7 separate regions of the Homo sapiens genome follow, and all the other regions are reported to be linked to region 7. Evidence: microRNA targets listed by miRTarBase, many of them from high-throughput screens and not tested one by one. Region 7 holds a microRNA gene; each other region holds the end of a gene's coding sequence.
Evidence for each region. Region 7 holds the annotated microRNA hsa-miR-4328 (CCAGUUUUCCCAGGAUU, at 1,275-1,291, opposite strand). A microRNA usually pairs through its seed, bases 2 to 8, with sites in the 3' UTR of a target mRNA and lowers its output. Matches are read on the target gene's strand: a 7mer-m8 pairs with bases 2 to 8, a 7mer-A1 pairs with bases 2 to 7 and ends in A, and an 8mer does both.

Region 1: the mRNA of KLF10 is a reported target of hsa-miR-4328. Seed matches in the 3' UTR shown: 8mer at 1,375-1,382.
Region 2: the mRNA of PDZD8 is a reported target of hsa-miR-4328. Seed matches in the 3' UTR shown: 7mer-A1 at 662-668, 7mer-A1 at 1,636-1,642 and 7mer-A1 at 2,644-2,650.
Region 3: the mRNA of NPTN is a reported target of hsa-miR-4328. Seed matches in the 3' UTR shown: 7mer-A1 at 997-1,003.
Region 4: miRTarBase lists RAB22A as a target of hsa-miR-4328. Seed matches in the 3' UTR shown: 7mer-A1 at 1,305-1,311 and 7mer-A1 at 2,137-2,143.
Region 5: miRTarBase lists GPAM as a target of hsa-miR-4328. Seed matches in the 3' UTR shown: 7mer-m8 at 975-981 and 7mer-m8 at 3,110-3,116.
Region 6: the mRNA of ASB8 is a reported target of hsa-miR-4328. Seed matches in the 3' UTR shown: 7mer-m8 at 2,100-2,106.

Annotation. Positions count from the first base shown.
Region 1 is chr8:102,647,684-102,650,683 of GRCh38, reverse strand. It overlaps KLF10 (KLF transcription factor 10), which reads left to right. Exons shown (of 4, transcript NM_005655.4): 4 at 293-1,900. The coding sequence ends at 552. Among named protein-coding and RNA genes, the nearest start is that of KLF10, 6.5 kb to the left of the region's middle.
Region 2 is chr10:117,280,220-117,283,502 of GRCh38, reverse strand. It overlaps PDZD8 (PDZ domain containing 8), which reads left to right. Exons shown (of 5, transcript NM_173791.5): 5 at 1-3,283. The coding sequence ends at 235. Among named protein-coding and RNA genes, the nearest start is that of SLC18A2-AS1, 40 kb to the right of the region's middle.
Region 3 is chr15:73,559,485-73,562,484 of GRCh38, forward strand. It overlaps NPTN (neuroplastin), which reads right to left. Exons shown (of 9, transcript NM_012428.4): 8 at 2,412-2,486; 9 at 530-1,564. The coding sequence ends at 2,426. It overlaps REC114 (REC114 meiotic recombination protein), which reads left to right. Exons shown (of 6, transcript NM_001042367.2): 6 at 268-529. The coding sequence ends at 432. Among named protein-coding and RNA genes, the nearest start is that of NPTN-IT1, 8.6 kb to the right of the region's middle.
Region 4 is chr20:58,359,129-58,362,454 of GRCh38, forward strand. RAB22A (RAB22A, member RAS oncogene family) reads left to right here. Exons shown (of 7, transcript NM_020673.3): 7 at 478-3,326. The coding sequence ends at 575. Among named protein-coding and RNA genes, the nearest start is that of VAPB, 28 kb to the right of the region's middle.
Region 5 is chr10:112,150,529-112,153,794 of GRCh38, reverse strand. It overlaps GPAM (glycerol-3-phosphate acyltransferase, mitochondrial), which reads left to right. Exons shown (of 22, transcript NM_001244949.2): 22 at 129-3,266. The coding sequence ends at 245. Among named protein-coding and RNA genes, the nearest start is that of GPAM, 32 kb to the left of the region's middle.
Region 6 is chr12:48,146,588-48,149,587 of GRCh38, forward strand. ASB8 (ankyrin repeat and SOCS box containing 8) reads right to left here. Exons shown (of 4, transcript NM_024095.5): 4 at 1,202-3,000. The coding sequence ends at 2,779. Among named protein-coding and RNA genes, the nearest start is that of ASB8, 9.4 kb to the right of the region's middle.
Region 7 is chrX:78,899,930-78,903,255 of GRCh38, forward strand. MIR4328 (microRNA 4328) reads right to left here and starts at 1,320; the gene lies at 1,265-1,320.

The DNA.
Region 1 (3,000 bases), not on the chromosome of region 7:
GTCTCAAACTTCTGGGCTCAAGCTATCCTCCTGCCCCAGCCTTCTGAGTAGTTGGGACTACAGGTGCCTACTACTCCACCCGGCTGCCTTATTTCATGTGGGGAAGAGTTTTGTAAATGTGATCAAGTGACAAGTTGAAATTGGAGCAATACATATCTCATATTCATTTGACAGTTTGATTTATTAGCTTTTATTATTTAAAATGTATCTTCTCATATACTTTTAGACAGAATTGAACATATAATTTACGGCAATCTTATGCATAATAATGATTTGTATGTCTTTGTTTTAGGAGAAAAGCCTTTCAGCTGTAGCTGGAAAGGTTGTGAAAGGAGGTTTGCCCGTTCTGATGAACTGTCCAGACACAGGCGAACCCACACGGGTGAGAAGAAATTTGCGTGCCCCATGTGTGACCGGCGGTTCATGAGGAGTGACCATTTGACCAAGCATGCCCGGCGCCATCTATCAGCCAAGAAGCTACCAAACTGGCAGATGGAAGTGAGCAAGCTAAATGACATTGCTCTACCTCCAACCCCTGCTCCCACACAGTGACAGACCGGAAAGTGAAGAGTCAGAACTAACTTTGGTCTCAGCGGGAGCCAGTGGTGATGTAAAAATGCTTCCACTGCAAGTCTGTGGCCCCACAACGTGGGCTTAAAGCAGAAGCCCCACAGCCTGGCACGAAGGCCCCGCCTGGGTTAGGTGACTAAAAGGGCTTCGGCCACAGGCAGGTCACAGAAAGGCAGGTTTCATTTCTTATCACATAAGAGAGATGAGAAAGCTTTTATTCCTTTGAATATTTTTTGAAGGTTTCAGATGAGGTCAACACAGGTAGCACAGATTTTGAATCTGTGTGCATATTTGTTACTTTACTTTTGCTGTTTATACTTGAGACCAACTTTTCAATGTGATTCTTCTAAAGCACTGGTTTCAAGAATATGGAGGCTGGAAGGAAATAAACATTACGGTACAGACATGGAGATGTAAAATGAGTTTGTATTATTACAAATATTGTCATCTTTTTCTAGAGTTATCTTCTTTATTATTCCTAGTCTTTCCAGTCAACATCGTGGATGTAGTGATTAAATATATCTAGAACTATCATTTTTACACTATTGTGAATATTTGGAATTGAACGACTGTATATTGCTAAGAGGGCCCAAAGAATTGGAATCCTCCTTAATTTAATTGCTTTGAAGCATAGCTACAATTTGTTTTTGCATTTTTGTTTTGAAAGTTTAACAAATGACTGTATCTAGGCATTTCATTATGCTTTGAACTTTAGTTTGCCTGCAGTTTCTTGTGTAGATTTGAAAATTGTATACCAATGTGTTTTCTGTAGACTCTAAGATACACTGCACTTTGTTTAGAAAAAAAACTGAAGATGAAATATATATTGTAAAGAAGGGATATTAAGAATCTTAGATAACTTCTTGAAAAAGATGGCTTATGTCATCAGTAAAGTACCTTTATGTTATGAGGATATAATGTGTGCTTTATTGAATTAGAAAATTAGTGACCATTATTCACAGGTGGACAAATGTTGATGTTGTCCTGTTAATTTATAGGCGTTTTTTGGGGATGTGGAGGTAGTTGGGTAGAAAAATTATTAGAACATTCACTTTTGTTAACAGTATTTCTCTTTTATTCTGTTATATAGTGGATGATATACACAGTGGCAAAACAAAAGTACATTGCTTAAAATATATAGTGAAAAATGTCACTATATCTTCCCATTTAACATTGTTTTTGTATATTGGGTGTAGATTTCTGACATCAAAACTTGGACCCTTGGAAAACAAAAGTTTTAATTAAAAAAAATCCTTGTGACTTACAATTTGCACAATATTTCTTTTGTTGTACTTTATATCTTGTTTACAATAAAGAATTCCCTTTGGTATATGGAATGGTCATTGCATTTCTTAAAAACCATTCTCAACTCTCACCTTGACATTGATCACTTATATTATCCAAGGACTTAGTGTCTGAATTTCTCTAAGGGTCTCATTCAAATTTAGAACTGTAGGAGTATGTCTTTAACATGAATCCATTTAGAGAGTATACAAAGTGAGGCCAAATATCTATTTGGTGAGGTAATATGTGAACCAGCCAGTTCTAAGAAAACACATTTAATTTTTAAACATTGTTTTTTATTTTTCAAGACACAGTTTCACTCTGTCACCCAGGCTGGAGTGCAGTGGCATGATCTCAGCTCACTACAACCTCCACCTCCCAGATTCAAGTGATTCTCCTACCTCAGCCTCCAGAGTAGCTGGGATTACAGGTGTGCACCACCATGCCCGGCTAATTTTTATATTAGTAGAGACGGGGTTTCGCCGTGTTGGTCAGGCTGGTCTCAAACTCCTGACCTCAAGTGATCCGCCCATCTTGGCCTCCCAAAGTGCTAATTTTTAAGCATTCTTGAATATTTTGATATTTAACAATATTTTGATATTAACGAAATCTTGTTAAGTAGTATTCAAGTTAAAGGGAACACCACAGTGAATAATTACAAGCAATGAAACTGCCGTGGCAAATGAAAAGAAGGCTGACTTATTAAATAGCGAGTAAATTGCTTACCTCTAGAAGTTAGACAATTAAGTGATACCTTAAATGCAATAAACATATTGGTACTTAAGCCTCATGAAAAGTAATCCACCTCTGAAGAGAAACACTTGTTAGTCACTCATCAGTGGAAGGAACTAAGGGCTGTAAATGCTACTTGGTGTATAGAGTATAATTTTGTAGATTACTATTTTAGCTTGCACTGAAATCCCCTTGTGGTCAGGAGAACATCTTCCACAATGCCCAACTTAACCAGTGACCTAGAGTCTGCCTCATTGTTGAATAAACACCATGGTAAGGGACCGTGTACTCACTTGGCAGCAGTTGTAGGACAGGTTTCTCAGGACATCTGTACACCTGTTGCTACTTTTCTTGGAAACTTAATACCACATGAGTATGACATAGCTGCTGGAGAGAGGCTTTGCCATTCTGGCC
Region 2 (3,283 bases), not on the chromosome of region 7:
AGCTAAATCAGGTGAAAGGCTACAAGCTCTAACACTTCTTATGATTCACTACAGAGCAGGCATTGAAGATATAGAAACTTTAGAAAGTCTGTCTTTAGACCAGCACTCCAAAAAAATAAGCAAGTACACAGATGATACAGAAGAAGACCTTGATAATGAAATAAGCCAACTAATAGACTCTCAGCCATTCAGCAGCATATCAGATGACTTATTTGGCCCATCCGAGTCTGTGTAGCAGACAGGTCTATTTAAGCTTTCAAATGAACAGGGTAAAGTTGCATCTAAAGTACCACAGATACAACCATGTTTAAATCCTCGTATGCACTCTGGCCTGCTTCTCCAGTTACTTGCTTGTGTAAGAACAAAAATGAGAAAGGTTGTTTTCCAGTAAAAACATGACCAGCTTACTAATTGGTTGTTTTGGATTGCATTTATAGCTATGCTTTTTTGGGTTTATACTGGGAATTTATTTTTACTAAATTATTTAACTTTTCTAATTATGTAATTATGTAAGCTAGCTTTTCATGTTTATGTATGTATGGTGTCCCCTTGTGTTATTTTTCTTCCTCTTGGTTTTTGAATTAGTGTTAAATAGAATACTGTCTAGATTCTTAAAATATTTTCATTTCCATCATGGTTATAACAAATTTGCTGCATGCCCAAACTGACAACAGCAATCACTGAGGGAACAGGTTTTGAATCTTTCTTTTGTGTTATGAAGTTTATCGTCTCTACTTGCTTGAGATTTTTGTTATTTTGGGGGTTTGGGGGTGCTTTTTGTTTTGTTTTTGCCAAATGTAACATGAAAGCAGATGCTGCAGCTTTAGTCTGTTATGCTGATTTAGTAAAAAAAAATTTTTTACATATATTGCTTGCTTTCGATGCTTCTGTGAAATTTTTTTCTAAAGCTTTTGTGCAGCTGTATGGTAAAAATATGGTGATTAATTTGAAGAGCTTACATTGAAAGACAATGTAATAGGAAATAAATGTAGATTGCAGTTGGTCAAGAATTTTGTAGAGAGGATAACAAGACTTAATTACTGAAAAACAGTAACATAGCATTTTGAAATATAATCTTTTAAAATATTGATGCTTTCCTTTTAAATGGAAATTTAAATTTTATAATTAAAAGTTTAAACATTTATGATAATTTTCCTCATCAGTTCTCCCATAGGAAATAAAGCATGTGAAAGGGTATTTAAAGTTTTGGAGGACTCTTTTTAAAATGACTGTGTTGATAACTAGTTTGGGCTGGTTTTGTTTTAGAAAAAACATTTTCATGTAGGAGTATTCTGTGAAGGAAAGGAATCATGCAAAATATACTTTTTGCTTTGGCGTCTTACAGTTGTAAAGGAATGGTGATCATTCTGAATACTTCTGTAGTGAGTATTCATTAAGAAAAGAATGACAAAAATAGTATTCATACATAGGAATTGGGACCAGTTCTCTGAAAATGAAGATATACTCACACTGGGTCCATTTTACGGGTCCCAGTAACATTTGACTGAGGGAAAACAAGTAAGCTCGACTGTTGTTGGGGTACCTTAATGGTTTCGGTCTGTTATATACCTATAAAATAGACAAGTATATGTTTGTCCCTTTGTAGGTAACTGCTATGATGATTGCTATATAGTGAAACTGACATGAGTTTAAAACTAGATGGAGCAGCTTTTATTGCTGGCAGGAAAAAGCATGGTGTAATATTAAGGACTGGGGCCCAGGTCTAGACTCCAGGACTCCATAAAAGAGTTTAAGTTCAAGCCCTTCCATTAATGAACTGTGTAAGCATAGGCAGTTACAAAAGGACCCATCTCTAAAATGGGAATAATAATACTTTACCTCCCTCACAGTATTGTTGTGAGGGAAACAATAGCATAACTGCAAAAGTGCTTTGAACAGTAAAAAGATATACAAGTAAAAGGCATTATTTATATGAGTAAGAAAGACATTTTTGAGGGGAGAAAAGTTATTCCACTTTAAAAATCAATAGCCAAGTCTCATGCCTTTTGTTACTTTAGTAAGCGAAAATTTCAGGTACTAAATACCTTTCTTAGCCAAGTTTATAACAAAAACATCTCAGTATACTTCATTACTTATTTAAGCGTGATGTCTTTTTTTTTTTTTTTTTTTTTTTTTTTTTTTTTTTTTTTTGAGACAGAGTCTCGCTGTCTCCCAGGCTGGAGTGCAGTGGCATGATCTCGGCTCACTGCAAGCTCCGCCTCCCAGGTTCACGCCATTCTCCTGCCTCAGCCTCCGGAGTAGCTGGGAGTACAGGCGCGGCTAATTTTTTGTATTTTTAGTAGAGACGGGGTTTCACCATGTTAGCCAGGATGGTCTCGATCTCCTGACCTCGTGATCCACCTGCCTCGGCCTCCCAAAGTGCTGGGATTACAGGCGTGAGCCACCACGCCCGGCCACGTGATCTTATTTTAAAAGAACACTGCTATAGAAGAATTTACACACCAAATTCCCTGAAAGCTAAAGTATTGTTCCATAACTTACACTTGAGGCAATCTGCTCAGTGTGTAACCACTTTATAAAAAATAACTTACCATTGATAACCTGGAAGGTGGACTACTTGTAAGTAGCTGGTGTTTATTGATTAAACCATGGAAGTTTTCATGATACCCAAGCATGTTGCTGAAACTGATGCATTTGAAAGAGCTGTTGAAATAATGCAAAACTTTGGTTTTATAAGAATCTACTCATGTTTTAAAAGTATTTAACTCTGTAGACCACAATTATAGAAAGCTCAGTAATGCTGCTAATGACATTTGTAAACTATATCTGTAATGTAGTGCAATATTTTTATATTTCACTGGGAGAGGCAGTAGAGACATCATAGTTGTACTTTAGTGCAAGTGGGGGAACACTCCAAATAGCCTAGAGTATAGTAAGGTACAAAGCTTCAATGAAAAAAGCTGTATTATATTACATTACTGATGTAATCTTGCTGCCATGCTATGTATCAATAGCTAAAAAATAATAATAAAGACTACCACAGAAAACAAGAATATCTTCATTTAATGAAATCTTTAAAAAAGGTGATTGCTGCATCTCTATGGAATTATCTTCTGGTATAATTTGGCCATGCAGAAAAGCATAACAAAGTCCACTTTTCCTAAACAAAATTGCTGTTTTGCAGACTGCCCCAAAACATTTTTTTACTATTGTTTCCTTATGGATTATCAAGTTTATGGGTTTCCTTTGGCTATGTATTAGTAATTAGACTTTAAAATATATTTTCTACATTAGTATTAGCTGAGTGAATGGCTTAGACAAA
Region 3 (3,000 bases), not on the chromosome of region 7:
GCAAACATTTCATCAGTACATTTGAAATTCTTTCCTTAGGGCAACAAGATTATCTCACATGCTATGTGTATTCAGAATACATATTAATATACAAAATTGTAAATGTAACAGTAAAACTATGTAAAGGAAGCCTGTAAAGCTAATTAACACTAATTTTTTTGGTGTGTATTTCGCTAATCTTTCCTTAAAGCACTATTTGCCTGTGTTCTATTAGCCAGGTATTGCTTTTACCTGTAATCTGTAACGACTTTTCTGGTATCCCTGCAGACTCTTCTGGCATCGGAGGAGCTGCCCCATGTCTATGAACAATCTGCATGGGGTGCAGAAGAGTTAGGCCCCTTCCTACGTTTGTGCCTTATGGATCAGAATTTCCCAGCATTTGTGGAAGAGGTAGAAAAGGAACTGAAAAAGCTGGCGGGTTTGAGAAATTAATGCTCTATATACATATATAACTAAGGAACTTCAAAGTATTGAAAAATGCTTCCTCCTAAAATTAAAGAAGATATTAGAATAAAGAGTATTATCCAAACACCTTTTATCAATGTTTTATTTTTAAAAACAGGTGAATCCACTTTTTTATACATCATTGCACTTCAATAATTACACAAAACACACAAGTACATGCATCTACAATTACGCACCGCATGAGAACCGTTAGGTTATAAAATCTATCATCAACCAGTAAATCAATGTGAAAAAATACAGTGTCAAACCAAAAAGTATAACTATAGTTGCATAGAATATTACCATGCTATAACATTTCAAGGTCATTGGAAACAAAAGAAAAATTATAAAAGTTTGCCTTGATTGAATGAATGTACAAGAATAAGGTTCAACACATCAGTGCAAAAGGATTTATGAATTTACATGACTTAACAGAAGAAAAGATAATCACTTAAAAAGCAATCATACGTATATACTGCAATTCATTATACCCATTCAGTGGACTGTTCCAGCTTATTAAAGTCACAGGTTAAGCCCTTAAAATTATAGATTTCAGTTTATATTACTCATCTTTATGTACCAGAACTGCACAATTTCCTCATCTGACAACATACAATAAGGAATGAATATCAGCAGCTTAAAAATGAAACAAGCATTTACTTTATTTTGGATTTCTCCCACCCCCAAAAATATAAATATATATATATATATATTTATATACTGTATATATCTGTAGGTTTTGCTGTACTTTACAAAAGTGTATCACTAGATGGCAGCAGTGCATTTTAGAGCTTTGCCAATTTAACAGCTGCATTAAGTAAAAAATGGCGCATGCATGATCTGATCCTCAGAGGACCTTTTCACTTCTATTTAAATATTTTAACAAAGGAAAAAAAAAAGCAACATTCACAGCACATCAAGCCCAAAATAGTTTACACCTTCTACACTGAAGCATTGTTTAAAATGTACCTGGCTAGATCACCCTTACAGGAGAGGCTAAATAAGGCATGCTTTAGACAGTCATTGTGGTGTTGCTCACTTGAAAGGGGAGAGAACCAAAGAGGTCCAAGCAGAAAATTTTAGCAGGTCATGTTGCCACCAGTTTCAGGAACCTAAAGATCTGTAAAGAAATATGTATTTGGAAATTATAAAGGGATTATGCACTGTCACTCACAACTACACCGTGTGCCACACAAAACTTTGGTTCAAACAGCACGCTCAGGGATGTGGTGTGAAATTCTGATCTCCATATGCCTAACAAGATGACATTCTGGCCCTGCTGCTACCTGGCCATTCTTGTCTTGCCCCCAGACGTGAGGTAAGACTAGTAGGCCTCTGGGAATAAGCCACCTAAGAAGGTGACAATTTTCACCTCTTTGTAAAGATATAATAGTAGTGAAAAGTGTTGATTTTAAAATATGTCTTCTGAAATGGCATTTATATAAACATGTGACACAATGCACCTGATGGCGGGGCACACTGGCTCATGCCTGTAATCCCAGCACTTCTGGGAGGCTGAGGCAGGCGGATCACTTGAGGTCAGGAGTTCAAGACCACCCTGGCCAACATGATGAAACCCCGTCTCTACTAAAAATACAAAATTTAGCTGGGCATGGTGGTGGGCAGCTGTAATCCCAGCTACTTAGGAGGCTGGGGCAGGAGAATTGCTTGAACCCGGGAGGCGGAGGTTGCAGTGAGCCGAGATCACACCACTGCACTCCAGCTTGGGCAATAGAGTGAGACTCCATCTTAAAAAATCCAAACAACAACAAAAAACAACGCAGCTGAAAAATGTTCCTTTCCAGTCCCTAAACTGGGCAGACAGAACTGGCTTCATCAGTATCAGCTGCTCTGAAATGAACTAAAATATCTTATAACACCAATTACTGAAGAATTTGTAACAAGGTCAATAGAGGCACATTCATTTGAATATAATTTTTAAGACTGCTACAGAAGGCCATACTTACATTGTAAGCAGTACTTAATTTGTGTTTCTCTGGCGCAAGTTTTTATCTTTGTGATTGTTGGTAGAGTTGGTTTTCCTTTGGAGGAAAAATTGCATTACATGAGTTAAACTCAGTCAATAACTTTTCAAAGTATAACACATGGAAATACAGGGACTCTTTCACTTACTGCCATCCCTGGTGTAGTGAGAAATTTTGTGGCACAATATGAGTGCATAAAAAAACATTCCTTAAGTAGCTACAGGTTAAGTATCCCTCATCTGAAATGCTTGGGATCAGAAATGTTTCAGATTTTGAATTTTTTTAGATTTTGGAATATCTGCATTATACTTACCAGTTCAGCATCCCTAATCTGAAAATCCAAAATTCAAAATGCTCCAATGAGCATTTCCTTTGAGCCTCATGTGAGCACACAAAAAAAACTTCAGATTTTGGAGCATTTCAGATTATGGATTTTGGTAGTAGGTAGACTCAACCTGTATATACCTCATTTTATCCTCCTTTTGACCCCCAAGGCAGACGAGTACTTTCCCTTCGAATCCGGAACTATAATTACGATACAGGTGAGAATATGTAAAACTTTTCTCCACTG
Region 4 (3,326 bases), not on the chromosome of region 7:
TCATGAGACAGAGGGACAACCATGTTCTGACTGAACTTTTTAAAAAACAAATCCTATGTATTACCTACTCAAAACAAAATGTTTTTGATGTGTGGCTTTTTTTAATTAAAAAACGTTTACTAAGTGCTGTGTGATATCCTTGTTTGGATCCTGGGGCAGAAGCAGGACATGTAGAAAAACTGATGCTATCTGAAAAAAGTCTGGAGTTAATAGTGATGTGGCAATGTTGAACTCTTCATTTTGACAAATGTCCCATGGTAATATGTCAGCACTGGGGGAAACTGGGTGGGAGGTACACAGGAGCTCTATCATCTTTGCAGCTTTTCTATAAATCTAAAATTATTCGAGTATAAAAAGTTTATTAAACTTTTTTTTTTTTTTTTTTACTTCAGTGAAACCTGTCAAATTGCATCTGCAAAATTGTTGTGTCTGAGAAAGTTAAAGCTCACTCCCTTCCCTTTTCTCATCTTGGTTTAGGTCGAAGAATTCCATCCACTGACGCCAACCTGCCATCTGGCGGTAAGGGCTTCAAACTCCGAAGACAGCCTTCAGAGCCAAAGCGGAGCTGCTGCTGACCGAACCTCAGCCTCTCAGACTTGATGATGAAGTAGGTGGTCCTGAAAGTTAACAGGAGGGCTGGGGTCCCTGCCACCAGTTTTCACCTAGCCAGTCTTGAGTCTTCTCCGTGCAAAAAGGATTCACAGAAATGGACCAGTTCTGTTCTCCAAAGACTGCAGCAATGATATTTCAGTCTGTGAACTTCTATTATGTAAAGAATCTCTAGTGTACAAAGGGACTACATCGTTGGCTTTTGACCTTGCTGAAAAGGAACATATAATTGTATGGATGGTAGGATTAAGTTGTTGAGTAGTTTTGTAATCAAGATTTTATGTAACATTTGTAAAGGGAAAATTAGCACTTTTGTGGTTCTTAAGGGAAAAGAAACAGACCTTGTGGAGATTATAATTTCCTTGGTTTCTGTTACCACTGTTAGAGGGAGTTGTATCATTTAACATATAGTAGGATAGTTTAAGTGTAGGGAGGACAATTATTGTCTGAAGCTAAAATGGGTTATTTATAGGACTGATGGAAATGATTTCATCTCTGCCATCTCTAAAGCACTTTTCATTGAACATGTTAGCCTAGGATACGTACAGTAAATTAACAATGATAGCAGCAGATGCCTAGCTCATCCTGGGTTTGCTTCTGACCTTGTCATGTGTGTGCCACCAAACACGTTATTGGCACCTTTTTAAATAAGCTCTCATGATCAAGATGGTGATGGTAGAGAAGCTGCCCGGAATAAACTGAATTTCATATGTTCTAAAATGACTAGCAATGGTTTAAAAAGGAAGAAGAGTGGAAGTGAAGAAGGTGGTATAAATGCTGTCAATTTTTTTTTAACCCAAGTATTTTGGTGGGGAAAAGCAAGTATCTATTGCTTAGCATATGTAAAGTTGTAGTCTATATTTATGGGGCCATTGCTTAAAGATTATAAATTATGTAAATACATTAATAAATTCTAAGTTTCATTTGACATTCCATTGAATCTCGCACCCAGTCTTGCGTATGCCTGCCCAGTTTTCAGCCTCTTAACGGGAGACTCAAGCACATTGGTATTGTATAAAGGTATAGAGCACTTAGCTTACAATCTTTAAAGGTTTCTCTGCCTTCCCTTCTACCCACCCGCCTCCCACCAGATCCCATCTGGAAATCATAATAAAGACATATGCCACTTTGACAAACCTGACTAGTCCTTACTAGCCTGAGGGTAAAAGATTAAGCTCCAACCTCAAGTCATTTACCTGGTCTTGGTAATAAGTTTCTTTTAGCTTGTACAGCATCCTCAGACCAACTGAGGAGCTTTCCTTGTTAACAATTTAGCTTATCTTTCTGTTTCCTTTATTTTTCCCCTGCCTCTGTTAGTGGTTAACACTCTTTTCCCTCAGGGAGCCTAATGAGGTTTTTAATATCATCTAAAAATAAAGCATTGAAGTGAAGTTGGTGAAAATTTGTTCCTGGTCTAATTTGGCACCCTTCCAACCTGAGTATTGTAGGGGAAGGAAATTTACAAGATTTAATAGGAAATGAAACAGCTTGAATTTCAAACTAAATTGTATTTTCAGAGCTATCCTGAAACTGAACAGCTGAAACTTTAAAAAATAATTGGTATTATTTTGTGCCCCCCACTTAATATGGATAGATTTTAATGGGAAAATTATAATTCAGATTAAATAAAAAACAATTCCCTTTTCCCTGTTGTATATCTTAAGCATTTGGAATTTTTTTTATCTTCTGAAATCATATAAAAAGAATGTCATTAGTAAAAATTCTAACTTCGTTTTGTTTAAAAGACATGTGGATGCTCCATGCCCCTAGGATTTTGCTTCCTCCCCGGTGCTAAATTAGCAAGCTCCTAGAGAAGCCATGTGATTCCCAGAGCCAGGCGCTTTACACCTAAAGTAGTTTGACTTTCTTCTGTATACATCCAGATGGATCCCAGGCATCCGGGCACCACCCTGGTGTGTCCCTAGAATTCCCACTGCTGGGCCTCTATCTCCATGACAACAAAATAAAAACAGAGGTTGCTTGACTCATTACCAAAGAGGCAAAGCATGTGCGACCCTTTCTGTCTTATTTTACCAAAAGATGGTGCAAATCTATGACCTTCACATTTTTTCCACCACACCCACCAGTAGCTGTTGGTGATTGCATGGTGTCTCGGTGCATGGGGAAAGGCAAGGTCTTCTGAGCTCATCTTAACTGGTGAGGCATCTGGATGTGTCTGATCTTACTGTGATGTTTTACTGTACCGAGCCCAATGTGGGTCCATCTCATCAGCCCTTTGCTGATTTCATGATTTCTCACCCTCCCTCCCATATGTAGGGTGTGATTCTGTTTTATTATAGCCACATGTTTTATTAACAGAATGAGTGATATGAAGCTTGTACTTATGCATTTCTCGGGCCTCTTCCCTCATTTTCATCAGTCTGTCTAAGAACTTGACTCGGCACTGTTTCTCGTGTAATATCCTTCTAATGCTTAGCAACAACAACAAAAAATTGCTCTCTCAGATCCATAATCCATACTCAGTGAAAGCAGGGAAAAAATATTTTCACTTATTTTATTTGCTTCTAAAATGCAAAGATGAATACTAAAGTCAGAAGCAGTGTTTCATTTTGAACACATTTTGGATTATTAAGCTGACTAAGCAATGATCTAATACACATTTCATATTTTCTTTATAATAATTTCTTATGGAGAAGAGGCTATATTTCAAAGGAATTGAGACATACTCCCATCTATAAACATGTTTGGTTTTCTTA
Region 5 (3,266 bases), not on the chromosome of region 7:
TGCCAGGATATGGTTTTTTGTGCCTTTACTGCCTTCTGAGGTCTAGGACACCACAGGTCAGGTTGGTAATGGAAATTTTTTTTATTTTTTATTTTTTGCCTTTAATTTAATCTAAACCTTTTCTTTAGGTTTTCAAGGAGACCAAACAAAAGAGAGTGTCTGTTTTAGAACTGAGCAGCACTTTTCTACCTCAATGCAACCGACAAAAACTTCTAGAATATATTCTGAGTTTTGTGGTGCTGTAGGTAACGTGTGGCACTGCTGGCAAATGAAGGTCATGAGATGAGTTCCTTGTAGGTACCAGCTTCTGGCTCAAGAGTTGAAGGTGCCATCGCAGGGTCAGGCCTGCCCTGTCCCGAAGTGATCTCCTGGAAGACAAGTGCCTTCTCCCTCCATGGATCTGTGATCTTCCCAGCTCTGCATCAACACAGCAGCCTGCAGATAACACTTGGGGGGACCTCAGCCTCTATTCGCAACTCATAATCCGTAGACTACAAGATGAAATCTCAATAAATTATTTTTGAGTTTATTAAAGATTGACATTTTAAGTACAACTTTTAAGGACTAATTACTGTGATGGACACAGAAATGTAGCTGTGTTCTGGAACTGAATCTTACATGGTATACTTAGTGCTGCTGGGTAATTTGTTGGTATATTATCTGGTTAGTGGTTAATGCTTCCTTTAAAAATAATTGAGTCATCCATTCACTCTTTTTCAGTTTTATCTGTCAATAGTAGCTACATTTTTAATGGGAGCACCTTTTATCCCAAAGTGCTTTATAAATTGAGTGGACTGATATATATCACACCCAGGTATCACTGTGCTGTCCTTTGCTGTCAGATTTAGAAATGTTTTTAAGAGCTATGTGAAAACAGACAATATTAGTTTAGGTCGGGAACTGAGATATTGTAATCAAATAGTTAACATCAGGAAGTTAATTTGGCTGGCAAAATTCTAGGGAAACTTGGCCAGAAAACTGGTGTTGAAGGCTTTTGCTCATATAAACAAGTGCCATTGAGTTTCAAATGACCAGCAAATATATTTAGAACCCTTCCTGTTTTATGTCTGTACCTCGTCCACCCCTCAGGTAATACCTGCCTCTCACAGGTACAGCTGTTTCTTGGAAATCCTCCAACCAAATAGCAGTTTTCCTAACTTGATTAGCTTGAGCTGACAGACTGTTAGAATACAGTTCTCTGGCCACAGCTGATGAGGGCTTTCTGTACTGCACACAGATTGTGTACTGCACCCCAGTCCAGGTGACTGGTACCCACTCGAGTTGTGCCGTGCACAACCTGTCCAGTATATGCATGTGGTGGCCCTACTGACTGGTAATGGTTAGAGGCATTTATGGATTTTTAGCTTTGAGGAAAAACCATGACTTTTAACAAATTTTTATGGGTTATATGCCTAAACCCTTATGCCACATAGTGGTAAATAATTATGAAAAATGGTCTGTTCATAATTGGTAGGTGCCTTTTGTGAGCAGGGAGCATAATTATTGGTTTATTATGGTAATTATGGTGATTTTTTAAATATCATGTAATGTTAAAACGTTTTCTAACAGTTTACTGTTGCTTATCTCCAAGATATTATGGAATTAAGAATTTTTCCAGATGAGTGTTACATAGATTCTTTGAATTTAGTATAAAAGTACTGAGAATTAAGTTTGTACTTCCATAAGCTTGGATTTTAAACACTGATAGTATCTCATGAGTAATGTGTGTTTTGGGAGAGGGAGGGATGCTGATTGATATTTCACATTGTATGAAATACCATGTTTGAAACTCATAGCAATAATGCTATGCTGTTGTGATCCCTCTCAAGTTCTGCATTTAAAATATATTTTTTCTTTATAGGAATTGATGTATACCATGAAGTCATTGTCAGTTGTAGTAGCTCTGATGTTGAATGAGATATCATGTTTTAGCATTCCATTTTACTGACTAGGGTAGAAGAACACTTTTCTTGGCTACATTTGGAGGATACCCAGGGAGTCTTGGGTGTTCCTTATCTGGGGAAGCAAACATTTCACTAGTCTCTTTTTTTCATCCTTTAAATTGTAAATTAAGGATTACTCAAGCTCACCATTATTCAAGATTGGGACTCGCTTCCCAGTCGACACTCTGCCCTGCCTGTCATTGCTGCAAAGAGCTGCTGCTTTGCCAACCTAAGCAAAGAAAATACGGCTTCTCTTGCATTATTTTCCCTTTTGGTTGGTTTGTTTTCTAGAAGTACGTTCAGATGCTTTGGGGAATGCAATGTATGATTTGCTAGCTCTCTCACCACTTAACTCACTGTGAGGATAAATATGCATGCTTTTTGTAATTAACTGGTGCTTTGAAAATCTTTTTTAAGGGAGAAAAATCTCAACCAAAGTTATGCTCATCCAGACAAGCTGACCTTTGAGTTAATTTCAGCACAACTCATTCTTCAGTGCCTCATGACTGAAAACAAAAAACAAAAAAACGAAAGCATCTTCACAATGAAGCTTCCAGATAGCACCGTTTTGCTAAAAGATACATTCTCATTGTTTTCCAACAGTGATGGCTTCCACATAAGGTTAAACAAACTAGGTGCTTGTAAATAATTTATTACAGTTTACTCTATCGCATTTCTGTAACATGAAATGCATGCCCTTCTTCAGGGGAAGACTGTGGTCAAGTTAAAAAAAAAAAACAATATTAAACAACATGAAACTGCAGTCTGTTTTTGAAAATGAGAATGTCCTAAGTGATTCAGAAGAGAGGAGGGAAGTTGTGCACTCTGAAAATGCATGAAAAACAAAGGCAAAAACTAGTGGGAAATGTGTAGAACTGTTAACTGAGATGGCTTCGAGTCTTCCTTCTGGAATCTGTTAAATTTCACAAAGTCATGAGGGTAAATGGAGAAAATATTTCTGGGATTACAATGAATGTAAGCCCAAATTGTGGAATTGCCAGTAACCTGGATGGGGAAAAGCATTTCCCATAGCACTCCATGTAATATGAGTGCTCTGTGAGATGTTCATCAGTGTTTTATAGAAATGGTGTTGCTGGGAAACCAAGTTTGCACCTGGAAACTTACAATGCACTTTAGCGCAGTAAGGGCTTGGCATCCGGTAGTGAAAAACTGTCTAACCCAGCATTGCCCAAACTATTTTGACACCAGGACCTTTTTCTCCTTTGGGATACTTATGAACCTCTCACTAATGTCCTGTGGAGAACATTTTGGGAAACACTATGTTAGATAGTTCTTTAAGGAGACAAAACGGTAATGAACAGA
Region 6 (3,000 bases), not on the chromosome of region 7:
TCCTTATCATGCCATATCAAATCCCCAGAGCCATAAGGCCTATGAAAACAAAGTGAAAGGGAAGGTTCAGGCATTCATTCAGAACATTTTAAATGCTAATTGCCATTGATTTATAGGTTCTCTGTCTCTTTCCTGTCTTTAATCTTAGAGCTGTTTCCTCAAGAAAATGAAGAGGGAAGGATGGCTCAGGGAAAGTTAATCAGAGGGAAAATGTCACTCTGTAAAGAGTAAAAAATTTAGGATGATGATACGATCTGGGAAAAAAAGGCATAGTGAAGACCACTTAAAAACAAACAAAAAAAACCTATGAAGGTGCATGCTATTTCCCCAGAGCTAAAAAGATAAGTGAAATTGTGTTTGAACTCTTAAGTGGAGGTGAAGCAGAATTTATTAGCCACCAACCACATAAGTGATTATGAAGTAACTGAGAAACAGGTAACATTTTTTCCCACATGGACAAAACTTTCTCTTTCTAGAATATTAAGTATCTATGATGAGAAATGAAGTAGCATCTCAAGCAGTTTATAAATCTACCAGAATATTAGAATCACCTGGGACCTTTGAACGTACTCATGCCCAGGTCTACTTTATTCATTTATTTTTTTGTAGAGATGGGGACTTCAACTCCTGGTCTCAAATGATCCTCCCACCTCGGCCTCCTAAAGTGTGAGGATTACAGGCGTGAGCCACTGTGGCCAGCCCTACTAGGTCTGCTTTGGACCAATTAAATCAATCTCTGGGGGTGGAGCCTGGGCTTTAGTATTTTTAAAAATTTTCCTAGGTGGTTCTAATTAATAACTAGGATTGAGAACCACTGACTAACACAGTGGAATCTCATTCCTGGCTATATTTGAAGCACTGAAGCCCCCAGTCCTACCCCAGAAAATTCCAAAGAATTGGTATGAGGTGAAATCTTGGCACCAGTGTTTTTAAAAAGCTTCCTTAGTGATTTTATGTGCAGCTGGAGTTGAGAACATAAAAGCAGTAATTCCAAATTTGGGGTGGGAGAAGGTATAAAGGAAGGGGAAGCTCTTCAGATACTCTGCCCAAGCCCTCCTGTTCACTCCAGCAATGCCCAGAATCACTGCTGCTAATGGGAGAAAGGTTGGGATGGAAAGTTACATAGAACAGCCAGGCAGTAAACGAAGAACTTTTTCTAAGGGGGGTTGGAGAAAAGTAGGAAAAGTAGAAATTGCCAAACTTGCTTTTAGAACTATTTATTCTTTTTTTTTAAGTGATGTTTTTTAAACACCAGCATCAATAGGACAGAAGAAGACATCTGTTTTCCAATTAGCTGTGTCAGTAGATTCCATTCATTGTTTGTAGTTCCCAATCAGCTTTAAAAAAAAAAGTTTTTCAAATTTGCATACAAGTCATCTAAAATCAATAACAACTTGATCTAATTTAGAAAAATGAAAGAGTATCGTTCACTAAAGCAGATCTCTTTTGGGTAGATGGACCATCACAAAAGGAGCTCTTACATGCTTTTCCCACTCCCATCCCAAGTCCACCCTCCCACCAATTGTATTGTATAAATCAATAAAAAGCAAAGGTTCCAGAACAACTGAAAGAAAAATAATTCCAAACTAAGCAGAGTGAACTTTCCATTGGGAATGAAGACCCATGGGAAAAGGCAGCCCAGCCCATAACTCCTCCCTGCTGGAACACACACCGTAGGTGTAGGAACTGCCTGGGAATCCCATTAGAACACACTGTTTCTCAGGAAGAGAAAAAGCTGCATTACAAGAAAAGTTCTCAGGACTTTAGGAGTTCTTAGGACTGTTATTTCAGAGCTATTTATTACTGTTATTACAGAGCTCTTGTTATTTCAGAGCTACTGTAGCCCTTGGGCACAACCAACAGAAAGAGGCAAAGACTGCTGTTTCCTTTGATGAGGGGAAAGAGGTCCAGTCCCTTCCAAATGCCCCAGGACATGGCACAGTAGGGATGTCATCCAGCCCAGTTCTGGATCTGCACCATTTGAGGTTATAGTATCTTCATCTTTGGGACACAATTGCTGTTAGCTGAAATTGTGATTTTCTTAAGTTTTTTCACAGATCAATTAAAATGGTTTTTTTTTTTTTTTTTTTTTTTTGAGACAGTTTTGCTCTTGTTGTCCAGGCTGGAGTGCAATGGCGCGATCTTGGCTCACTGCAACCTCTGCCTCACAGGTTCAAGCGATTCTTCTGTCTCAGCCTCCTGAGTAGCTGGGATTACAGGCGCATGCCACCATGCCCAGCTAATTTTTGTATTTTTAGTAGAGACGGGGTTTCATCATATTGGTCAGGCTGGGCTCGAACTCCTGACCTCAGGTGATCCACCTGCCTCAGCCTCCCAAAGTCCTGGGATTACAGACGTGAGCCACCATGGCTGGCCTAAAATGCTTTCTAGAAGGGATTCTTCTGGACCGTTAACCACGTCCCCAAAGGAAAACCACACACACATTATTTAAGTACTTTCCATCTTCCTAGAGAAATTTAGTTACACTGTTGACTCCTTCCCTAAAGGGGAGGATTGAGGGAGACCTCTTCTTTTGCAAAATGCAATATAAAAAGCCAGGTAAGCAATAAACAGAAAACAAAAGTGAGGGATTTTTTTTGTTGGGTTGTTTGGTTTGGGAAGGGGAGGTGCTATGGAGGTTATTGTTGTGACATGTTGCTTCGAAATCTATAAACCACACAACAGGAACAACTGTTTTTCTGTTTTCTGTGACAAGGAGTACTGCAGGGACAACCTCACCCAGAGCTGCCTGCACGATGGTGCAAACATCTTCTCCGGCTATTCTAAAAGTAACAGGTATTCCTTCAAAGAAGCTGGCAGTGGAAGGCCCTTCACTGCATCGGGGAGATACTGGAGTCCCAGGCTACGGCGCACGGCATAGCGAGCGAGTGTTTTTAGAGTTCCTGGAGCTGAGCACAGAACAGTCAGTTTTTCACATAGCTGCGGGTCTCTGGCCACCTCTCGTGGCATGGTGCCATTTTTCCTCAATTCAAAGTGTCC
Region 7 (3,326 bases):
AAAGGATGGGAGGGAGAGAATGAGGGAGGGAAAAAGGGAGGGAGTGTGGAAGGAAGGAAAAAAAAGACAATGAACAAAATATATTTTAGAAAGGAGGAGAATGTGTGGCACATAGTGGGCATTGAATATATACATTTTTTATTATTATTATACTTTAAGTTTTAGGGTACATGTGCACAATGTGCAGGTTAGTTACATATGTATACATGTGCCATGCTGGTGCGCTGCACCCATTAACTCGTCATTTAGCATTAGGTATATCGCCTAATGCTATCCCTCCCCCCTCCCCCCACCCCACAACAGTCCCCAGAGTGTGATGTTCCCCTTTCTGTGTCCATGTGTTCTCATTGTTCAATTCCCACCTATGAGTGAGAATATGCGGTGTTTGGTTTTTTGTTCTTGTGATAGTTTACTGAGAATGATGATTTCCAATTTCATCCATGTCCCTACAAAGGACATGAACTCATCATGTTTTATGGCTGCACAGTATTCCATGGTGTATATGTGCCACATTTTCTTAATCCAGTCTATCATTGTTGGACGTTTGGGTTGAATCAATAGACAGTGTCAAAAGTGTTCAAAATTCAAAAACAAACAAATGAAAAAAACTGGGAGAGTGAGAGTAGATAAAATTTATTAGAGCCTTTGGAAAGATAAGTTGGAAAGAAGGCTGGAATGGTGTGGTAAGGGTAGAGTAGGGAAGATGGAAAAAGAAGCAGTTTGGAGGAAGTTAGGAAGGAAAGGAATGATGAGAGAGTAAAAATGATGCAAATTATGTGTTTTATATATTTGACTGGGAATAAAAGGTGATAAACTGATCAAGAATTTAGAATGTCAGGCAGAGATTTTTGTTACCCATTTGTTTGTTATAGACAAAGGGGTCCTGAGACTGAGGACATAAACCAAAAAAAAGGCCATGGAACAAAAGATGAAAGATACGAGAAAAGAAGGGGCAATGGCTTATAAGAATTTGTTACCTAAACAATTTATAGACATAGCAGTGCCTTAATCTAAAGCAATAAAACCCAATGGTGGAATTTCAGAAAGTATGATAACCAGTTTGAAAAAGTGGGATACATTTATACAGCCTCAGATTAGAAATCTACTTCTCCTCCTTAAACCAATTATATCAGAGGCAATTGTCCTGGTTTGATTTTCTTTTGAAAAGACTGCATTGACTTGAAATGTGTATGTGAGGGATGAACAGGGAGCAGGGAAATTTGCCTTTGGAAATTAAGTTCTTACTAAAATAGTTTTTATCTCTCGGAACAGTTAATCCTGGGAAAACTGGTTCTCAATGGTTCTCAGGACTCAACTGTTTTGGGGTTAATTCAGGAAATTCTAAATACCAGAGAGGCCAAATTATTGCTTCAACTTTTGGGAAGAGGTGCCATTCTTGAACTTGCTAGATGGTGAGCTAAAATGAGGAGGATGATCTGAAGTCTTTTTACATAGACTTCCAATGTCATGCTCTTATGGGCTTGCTCTGTCCAGTAAATGGCACAGATCTCCATCCTCAGCGACCTCAGAAGTGCCAATGAAGACTTATCAAAAGTATCACTTCCTGGGCCTGTGCATGTCTCAGATGCAGGTTCACTGTTGATCTTACCCATAGATATTAGTCAATGTCTGCATTAATGACCCTTCTGGGTCAACCTCAAGAGAGCCACAGAACTTGTTTTTCTTCTCTTCAATCCTGACCTGACCCCTCTATTAGCCTTACTTTAAGCCAGGAGAGCTCCTACTACAGAAAAAGGGGATGAGTCACTGAGGGCCAGGAACAAGACTAGATCTCTTTAGTGTCAAAGGAAGACATAACATGCCCTGTGAAGTCTATTGTTTTCTAAAAATCTTGTATCATCAGATAATATCTTGAAAGCTAACTTTCCTTTCATAGCAGAGAGAAACATTGAGAGTACCCAGGTATAAAATGCTTGAGGGGATGGAGACTCAATTTTTCATGACTTGAGTATTATGCATTACATGCCTGTATCAAAATATGTCTTGTATACCATAACTATATACAACTACTAAGTACCCACAAAAAATAAAAATAAAAATAAAATTGTAGCATGAATTGCTAAAAAAAAGAGGTTCTATAAGATCCTATACCAATTATATGCCGAAACTAACAGGGATATTGGGGTCCTCCATTTTATGTGGAGGTAAACTGATAGTAGATGGCTACTGTGATTTGCTTAAGGTCACAAAAGATCATAATCAGTGCAAATCATTTGACTAATACACTATCCAAGTAATACATTTCATTTTGCCTCTGGGGTTGCAGACAAGTTCCCTGCTGCAATGAAATCTGTGTGGGTATACATAAACTAATAAATACATTAATATATGATGTAATATAAAGTCACATAATAGTAAGTTTCATGAAGAAAGTAAAACAGGATAAGGAGATAGTTTGTGCAGAGTATGTATTTGCTTTCATTTTGGTTGTTCAGAAAAGTACTCTGAAGAGGTGACATTTTGAGTAGTGGACTGGATAATTTATCAGAGCCGTAGTCTTAAGGGAAAATGTTGCAGTCATAGACAAAGCAAGGGTAAAGGCCCCGGGATGGAAAGAGGATTAGTATTTGGTTTTTATTAACAATACTTAGTGACTTCTATAGGGTAGAGCACTCCAAATGTTTCAATTTAACTCAATGAAATTCAATTAACCAGTTAAGTAGAATTTAGTGCCGAATAAGTATTAAGAAATTATTTATTATTCAAAGGCCTAAAAACAGAACTACCATTCAACCCAACAATCCCATTACAGGGTATTTACCCAAAGGAATATAAATCATTCTATTATAAAGACATATACATGCATATGTTCATTATAGCACTATTCACAATAGCAAAGACATGGAATCAAGTAAATGCTCACCAATGATAGACTTGATAAAGAAAATATGGTACATATGCACCATGGAATACTATGCAGCCATAAAAAAGAATGAGATCATGTCTTTTGGAGGAACATGGATAGAGCTGCAGGCTGTTATCCTTAGCAAACTAATACAGGAACAGAAAGCCAAATACTACGTTCTCACTTATAAGTGGCAGCTAAAAGATGAGAACACATGGACACATAGAGGGAAACAACACACTCTGGGGCCTATCAGAGGGTGGAGGATGGGAGGAGGGAGAGGATCAGAAAAATTAGCTAATGGGTACTAGGCTTAATACCTGGGTGATGAAATAATCTGTACAACAAACCCCATAACACAAGTTTACATATATAACAAACCTGCAAACATACCCTTGAAATTAAAATAAAAGTTAAATTTTTAAGAAAGTAATTACTTGTATAAAACACTTGTGCTATG